Regions from separate parts of the Homo sapiens genome. Here region 2 is linked to region 1. A link means that fine-mapping ties the variant in region 1 to the expression of a gene that starts in the linked region. Tissue or cell type: whole blood. Region 1 holds a variant in brackets; the other region holds the start of a gene. All regions are shown on one strand. Distances are between the middles of the regions.

Region 1 (5,000 bases):
GCAGGTCCAAGTCAGATGTCAGGGGTCTGCTCTTCTCTTACCAAGTCTCCCACAGTCTCCCTCAACTCGCGCACTTTCTCTTCCAGATTCAGGTTCCGATCTGTCAGCATCTCCACCATCTCCTCAGCACCCAGAGCAGCATCCACCTGTGTTACGGGGAGGATAGGGAGAAGGGCTGCTGGAAGGTACCTAGAAAGAGGAGGCATCAACTGATAGGAGAGTCAGGTGGGGGATTCTGGGTGAGGGGCTGGGCTCCCCAGACCTGCTCCTTGAGCTCATCAATGGTGCTCTCTGCCTGGCTTAGCTCCTCCTGCAGACGCTCCCGCTGTTGCCTCACAACTTCCAGCTCTTGGTTCTTCTTTTCCATGAGCTTCTGGAGCTTCACATGCTCCTGCTTCTCTGAGGAAGAAAGATCCCGCATCCTGCAGGGATGTGAGGAAGGCAGAAGGAGGAAAGCACGTGTCAGAGTCTCTGGCGATGGGTGCTCTAACACATTTGGAGACACAAGAGTAAGCATCAGAGGCAAGCACTGAAGACCCTACCTCACCAGGGCATCCTTCAGGCGGGCATTCTGCTCCTCAAGCTGCTTGAGCTGATAACTGGATGCAGCGCCATCTGAGCCTGGAGAAGATCATTAACACTTTCAGGCATGGTTCTCACCTGACCGTTTGGCCCCCAGCAGCTGTGGGCCCCTTACCCTTCTCTTCAATCTCAGCCTTGAGGATCTCTAAGTCAGTAGTGAGCTCGTCCACCCGCTCCTTCAGTGCCTCCACCTCCTGCTGCAGGGACTCAGCCCGCTCTTCAGCCATCTCCTTGTCCAAAGTGGCCATCTCAATGGCATCAGCAGTATCAGCCATCTCCTCCATATAGCGTTCCTTTGCCTCCAGCGCCTCCTTGGCTTCCTGAGGAAGAAGTGGAGGTGGGAGGGGGTACCAGCACAGAGATGCCCCAGGCCTTTCTCACAGTATGTTCCAGGCTCCAGCTCCAGTCTAGTTTCCAGCATGCTTCCTTAGGTCTCAGGCTGCCCCAGCCACCCCCTTCATCCAGAGTCAAACCTTTCTCGCCTCCTTGAGGCGCCGCTGCAGGTCGGCCTGCTGCTCCTGCATTTTGCTCTTCCATTCCTGCACCTGCTCCAGCTGGATTTTGTGTTTCTCCAGCTCTTTTAGCTTTGCTTTGTCTTCTGCCCGTTTCAGTCTCAGGGTCTCTAGTTTCTCCTCCAGGTCCCGCACCTGAGCCCTTAGTCCCTCCTCCTCCTGCAAAGGAGAGGCCTCACGGTCTGTGCACAGCCCACTCCTCCTCTCCACCAACACTGAGCTGGCGCAAAGAACACAAGAAAGTGTGCAAACATCACCCAGCCCCAGGGTGGCCAACAGTCAGTGGCATAAGAACATCTGAGAGGAAACCGTAGCACAGTATATATGGGGAAAGTATGGCATAAGGGCAAGAAAGGAAAGGATGGCTCAGTCAGTAGCAAGATATCCATAGGCTATGTCCTCACCCTTTCTGATCCAAGTTCTAGGTCTTTGCCAACCCCAGGAAATTTTCAAGACACAGCGGGTAGCCACAAGCCTCTGGGTGTCTTGATTCTCCTTTACCCCTACCCCAGGCCTTACCTTGGATGGGGAAGGAAGCGGGGGGACTGCTCCAGGAGAGGTGAGGACCGGCGTGGGGATGATGGGTGCTGCCAGCGGAGTCTGAGCCGGGGTGCTGGGCTCACTGCTGCTCAGCTCACCTGCTGACGCTGAGCCAGAGGGGCCCAGGGAGCTACTGGCCCCAGCCACCCCAGTACTGGCTGGGCGCGTGGGCTATTCAGAAAGGGTAGAGGCAGACCAGAAAGAAAGCAGAGGATAGGGGTAGTAAGAGGAACAGAAACAGAATATGAGAATATGGCAAGGGAAGGAGACAGAAAAGGGAAAAAGCAGAAAGAGAGTATCAAAGCACAGTGAGAAAAGAAGAATGAAGGGGACAAGGAAAATGATACAGAGAGGCAGAGAGAGATAGTGACAAAGGACAGGGGGAGGATGGAGGCAGAGGAGAGAGGGAGGAAAAGATAAGAGAAAGACATAAGATTATAAGGCTCCTCGCTTGGCACTGACTCCACATTCCTCCTAGCTCTGGCACTACCCTTAAGAGCAGAATCCGTTATTCCCTAGAACCCCCATCTATGACCCACTTGTGATCATTCTAGCAACTCCATTATACTCTCAGTCCCATCCTTGCTCCAGGTCTATGCCCTCCACCCCTAGACGGAAAAAGTACAATCTAATTTCCACAGAAGGTTGGGCCAAAAGTGGGGGTGCCAGGCTCTCTACCCCTG[C/T]TAAGCCCTCTTTGGGAGTCAAGCTGAATCTCCCTCTCTCAGTCTATTTCAGAGGACCCTGCAGGTAAAAGGGCCAAGGTGAAAGTTGTACCCCTAGACTCCCCCTTGAAACAACTCTTCGTCATCTCCCCCGATCTGGCAACACTATCCATGCCCCTGTGGGGCAGGGGAGAAGGTGGGCAGAGGAGCTGACCTGAAGTTCAAGCCCTGGAGCAGACAGGCCTGCCAATGTGCTCAAAGTGCTGAGCCCCAAGGTCTCCCAGTGGGCTGACACTCAGAGATCATGTGCAATCCTCAGACATCCCCACCCAAGGCCTGTCACAGACACACTCACCTCCTTATCCCCTGACATTTTACATGGCCAAGTTCATCTTTCTTCCAATCCCTCCCATCAAAACTGGTCAAAATTCCCTTGTTCAAGAAAGCCTGCTTTGATTAACCACCACAACCCCATTCATTTCTCTTTTGCATTCAAGCTACTGGCTTAGACAACCTCCTAAAAGCCAAAAGCCATTTTCCCCAGGAGGTGCCTGCCAGCACTGCGAACCCCCACCCTTTCCTCTGAAGAGAACCCAGGATACACTATGACGAACTTTCACTTGCTCATACACGTGCCCTCATACATCCACATGCCTGAAACGTGTGTGTACACTCAGCAGTGGCTCACACAGGGGCCTGTTTTCTCACCTTGGGTCGCCGAGTTGTGGTCTGGACAGGCAACAGGAGCCAGAAGAGAAGTAGTCAGGAAAGAAAGGACAATGGCAGAAAGACAGAGAGCAAAAGGGACAGCAATGAGAGCAGAAGAAATAACAGGAATGGGGCTACAGTTAGCCACCCTCCCCCCCATCCCATCCCCTTCTCCCTTCAGTGAATCACTGTATTCCTACTTCAGGAACCCAGAATTCCTGTTCCCCTTGGTTCCTGCTCCCACTTTTGTCCAATCCTTGCAGGCCTCACCCCTTCAGACACCCCAGAAATCCCAGAAGTCCATCTCTAGGCTGAGCCATAGAACAAGGAAGCAGCTAGTGAGAAGGTCCCATGAGACCAGTCCTCCTGCTAACGATCTCTCCAACTCCAGTCCAGAGCCAGAGGCCCCGCCCAGCCACCACTCCCAAGGACTTTCCCAGGTCAGCCTCTTCCTTCAAGTGCTAGACTCTACACAGAACTCCCTAGAAACCCCATGTGACGAGCGTAATCTAAGCCCAGAAATGGGAGATCAGGTCCCTAGGGTAGAACAATGCTGCTGTCCTCCCTCCCCCAACCCCCTTCCCCAGAACCAGATCCTGCAGCAGTCCCGATCACTAGGGAAGAGGGCTCAGGTGTCAGGACCATGAATATTGCATTAGCAGAAGCCCAGAGCTCAGCAAAGTAACCCCACCCAGCTGTAGGAAAGGAGGTGGGGGTGGGCAGCAGCACAGAGAAACTACAGCCCCTTCAGGTTACTGCAAAATGGTAAGTGGACAATTAACTCCAATTTCCAAATAGTGTTCTTGCTACCCAGTATCTCACTGCTCTAGCCAAGACAAGATTTGGCTTGGGCCCTATTTCCAGCATACACTGAGGCCAATTCCCACCTCTTCTACCCTGGGCTAAGCTTCCACAGCTGTGGGTCAAAGACTATTCTAGGTTCCCCATCCCACCCTGGTAAAGTGCCCTGATACAAATCCTGGGGATTGGGGGATACTGGGAGAACAACCAAGAGGTATTCTAGCAAAGGTTGGGTGAGGCAGGCAGGCCTGCTAGAGGCACTGAGATACCTGGGCCTGCTTCCCTAGGTTCTACCACAGGAAACCCTCCCAGATCCGGTATGCGGTAGAGGCTGCCTGAAGCCCAAGCCTGTGAGGCCACTGGGTGTTAAGGCCTGGAACACAGGCAGAGCCAAAAGCAGGCAAGGCAGTAAGCAAATGCCCAGGGTGTGGGGCATAGTGGTGACACACACCTCTCCCTAACCCACCTTCGTCCTCACCCGCCTCCCCGACCAGGTAGACAGATGAAGTCAATCAGCCCCCACCCCCACCCCAGCAGCCTGCTGCCACCATTGCCCTGGCAACCCAGCAGCAGGACGAGAGCAAGCAAGAGTACCTTTCGGGCTGTCGGTGCCTGTCTCATCATTGCAGAAAACCAAAGAAAGCAAGGAGAGGAAAGAGGAGGGACAGAGGAGGATAGACAAACACACGGAGGAAGGACAGACGAAGGGAGGGAGGGCAAGAGACCGAACAGAGGGAAAGGCGGCGGAGACAGGAGATTAGTGCATCAAATCCCAACAATGCAGTCTCAGCCTCCCGGTGCGGCAGCTTCCCAGCCTGCAAACGGCCGCCGCTCTGACACAGAGGCCCCCGCAGACGTGCAGCTGGATCGCCAGGCTCCGGCAGGCACCGGAGCGGTGCCTGGCCCAGTTCACCAGCTTAGGCTGATGGCAGCCTCAGTGGCCGCAGCACCAGCTCCACCTGACGTCATGCACCCACCCTCCTCTGCTCCATGGGGGTGGAGCCACTGCTCCTCAGTCACCTAGCAACCATCTAGGGCTTTGCTGGCTCCTCCTCCTCATGACAGTCATGCGCAGAGCTTGTCCTGCTTCTTTCTCCAAAGAACAGGTTTTGGCTCCTCTCTTCCCTCCCTTGCCCACCCCCAAGAGCGTGCTCCAAAAAACTGGGCCAGGGGCTATCCCAGAAATGGCATTCTA
Region 2 (5,197 bases), 29 kb before region 1:
GGCTGAGGCAGGAGAATCGCTTGAACTCAGGAGGTGGAGGTTGCAGCGAGCCAATTATTGTGCCACTGCACTCCAGCCTAGCGACAGAGCGAGACTCCATCTCAAAAAAAAAAAAAAAAAAAGAGTAAATGTAAAAGAGCAGTAAGAGACAAAAATCAAGCTGCTTTCTGATTTTACCACATAAGTCATGTTTGTTCAATGGAACAGTGCACATTAGCTTTAATTGTTAATTAACACGCATCTGTTAAATAACCTTGTATCTGACTTTGGATTTTAAGCTTTCTGAGGGCAAGGACCATGTGCTGTTTAACCCCACACTGTTCCCACAGCCTGGCAAAGTGCCTCAAATTTACACAGGGGGCACTGAGATGGCTGCTGAGTGAATTGCTGACCAAGAGGGACTGCCCCACATCAGGCAGCCCATGCCATTACTGTGCTCACACTGTGCCCGACACAGAGCAAGGGATCATAAGTCCTGGGTGGCTTGAATTGACTCTTCCTAAAAAAAGAGTCTGTGATCTAGGAAGTCCAATATAAAAAGATGTTGCGGATTGCCCAGACTTAGAGTAAGAGGGGCAGAAATGAAGTAGGCATGGATGGTAATTTTGTTTTTCCATCAGGGCTGCTCTTACTCTGGAGTAAGGAGAGGAAGGCTAAGACACAAAAGGGGGACTCCGCCCAACCCAGCTTATGTCCTGTGATACCAGAAGGGAGCATTGCAATGACCTATTAAACCTCAAACCAAGCTGAATCCATTTCTGAGTAAGAGACTCTTACAGGGCTCCTGTCCTCAAAACTATATAAAATTGCTCAAATTATGTACTTCTGAGATAATAAATTAGCAGAAGAAGCACATAGCCCACCTCTTAAGATAGGGAAGTAGATCTGAAGTAGCTCAAGAAACAAAGTTTTCTACAGATGAAGGATGAGGGAAGGAAACCCAAGACCAGTTGATTCTGGTTTGGGAAATGATAACACTGGAGAACACACTCTACTATCTGTTTCTTGTGACATCCTTTGTGCTAAAGTTATCTCCTTTGTTGGCATGGCCACCATCCCTACTTCTAGTGCAGTGGAGATGTATGAGTGTCTCCATTGCTAAGTGTTTAGTTACTCAAGATAAACTTGACTGGAGAGGGTGTGGGCAGGCATTCAGTCAAGCAACAAGCCACTCACTGAGTGCCACCAATGGTGTGGGAAAAGATGACTCTCCTTAGACTGGTCCATCCAAAATAAAGGAGGTGGGGAGAGCATACCTGGGTGGTCTTCAGGGTACTCCTGGAAACATCCATCAGCTCATGAGCTCACAGCTGAATTCCAAATCCTGGGATGCCTGCTTGGAGGGAGGGTAAAACACCATTTCTCAGGGACAGAAGCCCACAAAGCTAAGGGCACTGGGTTTCTAAGTCAGGATTTCATCACGGCTGGATGACCCTTTTTTAAGGAAAGCCAGCTGATCTCCAGGACTCCTGATACATAAGAGCTATGCAGTCTGTCACTTCTAGGGAGAGAGATGGGGACTAGCTCTGGTTCCTCATGCGTTCCTTCCCTCTCACTCCCTAAAGACCTCAAGAAACAGATCCTTGGTAACAATGCCTTCTTTGGGCCAGAAAGCTTAGTTGAAGTGTGGATTCTTATACAAGTCTCATGTTTTCTGGACTCCTAGGAGACTCAGAGGAGACACCATAGGTAACCCTTATTGAACTGGAAGAAGTGTGAAGTACTATCAACCACTGAGACTCCCATGGCTCAAGAATATGCACAGAGGTCTAACTAGATATAGGTCTCAGCCCCTGACTTTAGAAGTCTGACATTCCACAGATATGCACACACTACACGCTCCCCTCACAGAGGAAACTGGAGTAGGGGGACACAGCAGAACAAAATCGCAACACTACTACAGGAAAACCTCGTCATTCCGTTACTTGTCCTTTGCTATGTTGGAATACTTATAGATTAGTTTCAACAATCAGGTTACTCCTTATCTTTGCTCTAAGTCTTGTACAGGCCTTTAGCAAAAAGCAATAAAATTCTCATCTGACTCTTGGTGGGCTGGGGAATCTGCCTATTCTATTCAGTTGGTTCACTCACATCTCCAAACCAGAACCTACAACCACTCTGTAACTTTATTTATGTAAAATCCACTCTACTTACCCCAGTGCAGTGGCCTGTGGCTCCTGGGCCCTGACTCCAATTCCTTTAGGGTGGACCTTGCAGTTGGAACCATCCACCTCTCGTTTTTTCTATCTCTGCTATTAACATAGCCCCTCCTCTATTGCCTCACCAACTATTTTCAAACCAAAAAGTCTTTGTCTATTCATAGCCACTGTAAAAGTAACATTCATTTTTCTGTTTTTTAATCTAATGTCTGCGTCTTCAGTGGTTCTCACTGGCTAATCTAATCAGTGTGTTCTAGGGAGGTTTATTCCTTGCCTGTTCAGCTTGTCCCAGCACAACAAAGGTAAGTCATTTGCCTGGGGAGAATCAGCTCTTTTAAATCAGACAATCCTCAGGAAAGATGTCAGGACTTTTGCCTCTTTTCTTCATGGGACTGAGATTCAGGAGAACATTCCACATTCCACTGCCACACAGCTCTGCAAACCCCAAATCCTGACTCTCCGAAGAAGGATATGGGCAAGGAAAACAAAGAAGGCATTTGAAAAAACCAAACCTTGCAAGAAAAACTTTGCGTACTTGGTGATTTTTCCAGGTTTATCCTGACTTTTGGCCTCTGTTTTTATGAATTCCATTTTTGTTTAAGTGAAAAAGATACGGTGAGAGAGACATAGTGGAAAATGGGAAGTTTGGAGGAAGATGGGAAGGAAGAAGCCAGTGAGTAGGAAGTGAGAATCGGGAGTGGAGGGAGTGAGGGACGCGGTGCTGAGCGATGGGGAAGAGAAGCATGCCAGGAAGGCGCAGCGTCTCTGGGCACCCAGCATGGGGCCTGGTATATGCACACATTTCCCCTCATTGAACTCTCAACAGTCCAGTGGGGAGAGCATTCTCGTCCCCAACCTTACAGAGCTGGAACAGAAGCTCAGAGACTTACAGACAGGAAGAAAAGTAGGAGCTGGAAGCCCCATTAAAAAAGCAACTCTACCCCTCTTCTTCCAGTCTCTTCTGTGGCTTCTCTAAGGGTCTTCAGCCTCCTTATTTCAGGGTTGACCTTCTCTTTCAGATAGGAAATTTATCATCTGGTTGGATATCCTCACTTTCTTCCTAGATCACGTGGAGTTTTCCCTTAGTGGAAAAGCCTCATTCCTGGATCTAGAGCCTGCTGGTGGCAGACATGTAAAAAACATGTTTCGGAGGCCATGCCCAAGCCAACACATTAACCCAACATTATAGTTTCTGTTAATAATCCATGGAATCAAAGACAGGCAAGACTAGGGAGATCAACACATGCTGGGTCACCAGAGGCTTTCCTGGTTTTAGCACAGAAGATCTGTGACCCAGGAAACCCCTTAGTCCCAGGAAGATCAGCACAGCCTAGGCCAGAAACAGTTTCGGGCCTTAGGGAATTTCCAGCTGGTTGGGGATTCAACAAATTCAGAAGAGTGTGAGGCTCCAAAAAGAAGCACAAAGGGAGGGAAGGGTTCAGTGAAAGAAAAATCACCCTTGTTTGGAGGATTACCTTGTTCCACAAATGTTCATGGCTTACCTACCAGCCCCATGTGTTAAAGAAAAGCTTTGTGGAGAAAATGGCCTTGGAGATGCAGTGAAGGGATAGGATAGGGGTAGGATTTAGAACAGTAGAACTACCAAGGGGTATCTGAGGCAGAGGGAAGAAGCCACAAAAAATATAGACATAAGAGGTGGGAGAACATAGCATAAATATCCTGAGAACTGGAGAGCAGTTTCCCTGGCACAGGGCAGGTTTGGGGAAATAAAGCTTTGGGCATGCGACGATAGGCTGGGTAGTCTATGGAGAGGTGTAAACATCAGCAAACATGTCTGAAGTGAAAGGAATGTGGAAGGGGACTTGGTACAAGAATGGAATAATGGACTTCACAGTGGATTGTAGCACAGGTGGAAAGACCAGTTGAGACGTTACTGCCAAGCATTCAAGTGAAACCCTTTGGTTTCTACCTACCCAGGTTTTGTTCAAATAATTTGGACATTTATTTCAGACACTTCAGGTTTGGGGTTTTTTTGTCTCTCACTTCACACAGGAATTTGAGGGTGAGCTTCATCTGGTTTGGTGAGGGTATTGGAAGGTATGGGGCAGGGGCTGTCCCTCCAGGATGCACAAAGGGAACAGGTTTGCAGGCTCAGGAATCCTCCTAATGGAGGAAGGAGGAAGGAGGGAGGAGGACCTGCCCTGGCAGCACCGTGCTTTCTTCCTCGTGTCTAGTGTCCACTGGGATTTGGCTGCTGCACTGCTTGTCTCCCTGTCCAGACCTAATGCCTCGTTAGCTGTTAACCAAAGCATGTTCCTTACTTATTTGAGAGGCTTTCTACCTTGCCAGAGAAAGACAGCCATTTGAATGTTCTCTGTGAGAAAAGGGAAAGGCAGTGTGGCGGTGTGAGACCACAGCCTGAAGTCCCCGACTGCCACCACCTGCCACAATATCCTGCTGCCACTCCCCAGCTCTGCTGTCTCTAAGCCTCAGTTTCCCACATGAACCAGGCGACTAAAGTGGGGATGGCAGATTTTCTCTCAGAAGGGAAAAGTGCTAGGCGTCAGGTCCAAAGAAGTATACTGTAAACCCCTCCTCGTATTCCAGCACTGCTTTGGAATGCTTTTTTTTTTTTTTTTTTTTTGCTTTGGATATTTTTCCTTTTTACTTTTTTTTTTTCAAGTTCTCTCATGAGGTTGCATACTTTACTTTTTTTCATTTAAAAAATGTAGTTCCAGTTGGACTTAGGGAGGAAAGAGAAGTAAATGTTAACAGTTCACTTTACAATCTTGAACGAATTTTTTACTTAAGGTTGATTTAACTTGGTAAGTGTATTTTTTGTGAATTTCCTATTCATATCTATGTTTCTATTGATGTGTTTCTTTTTTCTATTTATTTATTTATTTATTTATTTTTGAGATGGAGTCTCACTCTATCACCCAGGCTGGAGTGCACTGGCCACCATCTCAGCTCACTGTAACCTCTGCCTCTCAGGTTCAAGTGATTCTCATGCCTCAGCCTCCCAGGTAGCTGGGATTACAGGCATGCGCCACCATGTCAGGCTAATTTTTGTATTT

Evidence for each region. PIP is the estimated chance that this variant, and not a neighbour inherited with it, causes the effect. A credible set is the group of variants that fine-mapping cannot tell apart.
Region 2: it holds the start of SLC4A5, and the variant in region 1 is the best candidate, but not a certain one, in a credible set for the expression of SLC4A5 in whole blood (INTERVAL, PIP 0.59).

The regions. Positions count from the first base shown.
Region 1 is chr2:74,369,924-74,374,923 of GRCh38, forward strand. DCTN1 (dynactin subunit 1) reads right to left here. Exons shown (of 32, transcript NM_004082.5): 6 at 4,400-4,417; 7 at 3,005-3,025; 8 at 1,614-1,805; 9 at 1,056-1,253; 10 at 698-902; 11 at 543-621; 12 at 263-422; 13 at 42-146. Among named protein-coding and RNA genes, the nearest start is that of DCTN1, 7.9 kb to the right of the region's middle. The variant C/T (reference allele first, on the strand shown) is at 2,318.
Region 2 is chr2:74,341,202-74,346,398 of GRCh38, forward strand. It overlaps SLC4A5 (solute carrier family 4 member 5), which reads right to left and starts at 2,215. Exons shown (of 31, transcript NM_133478.3): 1 at 2,155-2,215; 2 at 1,257-1,333.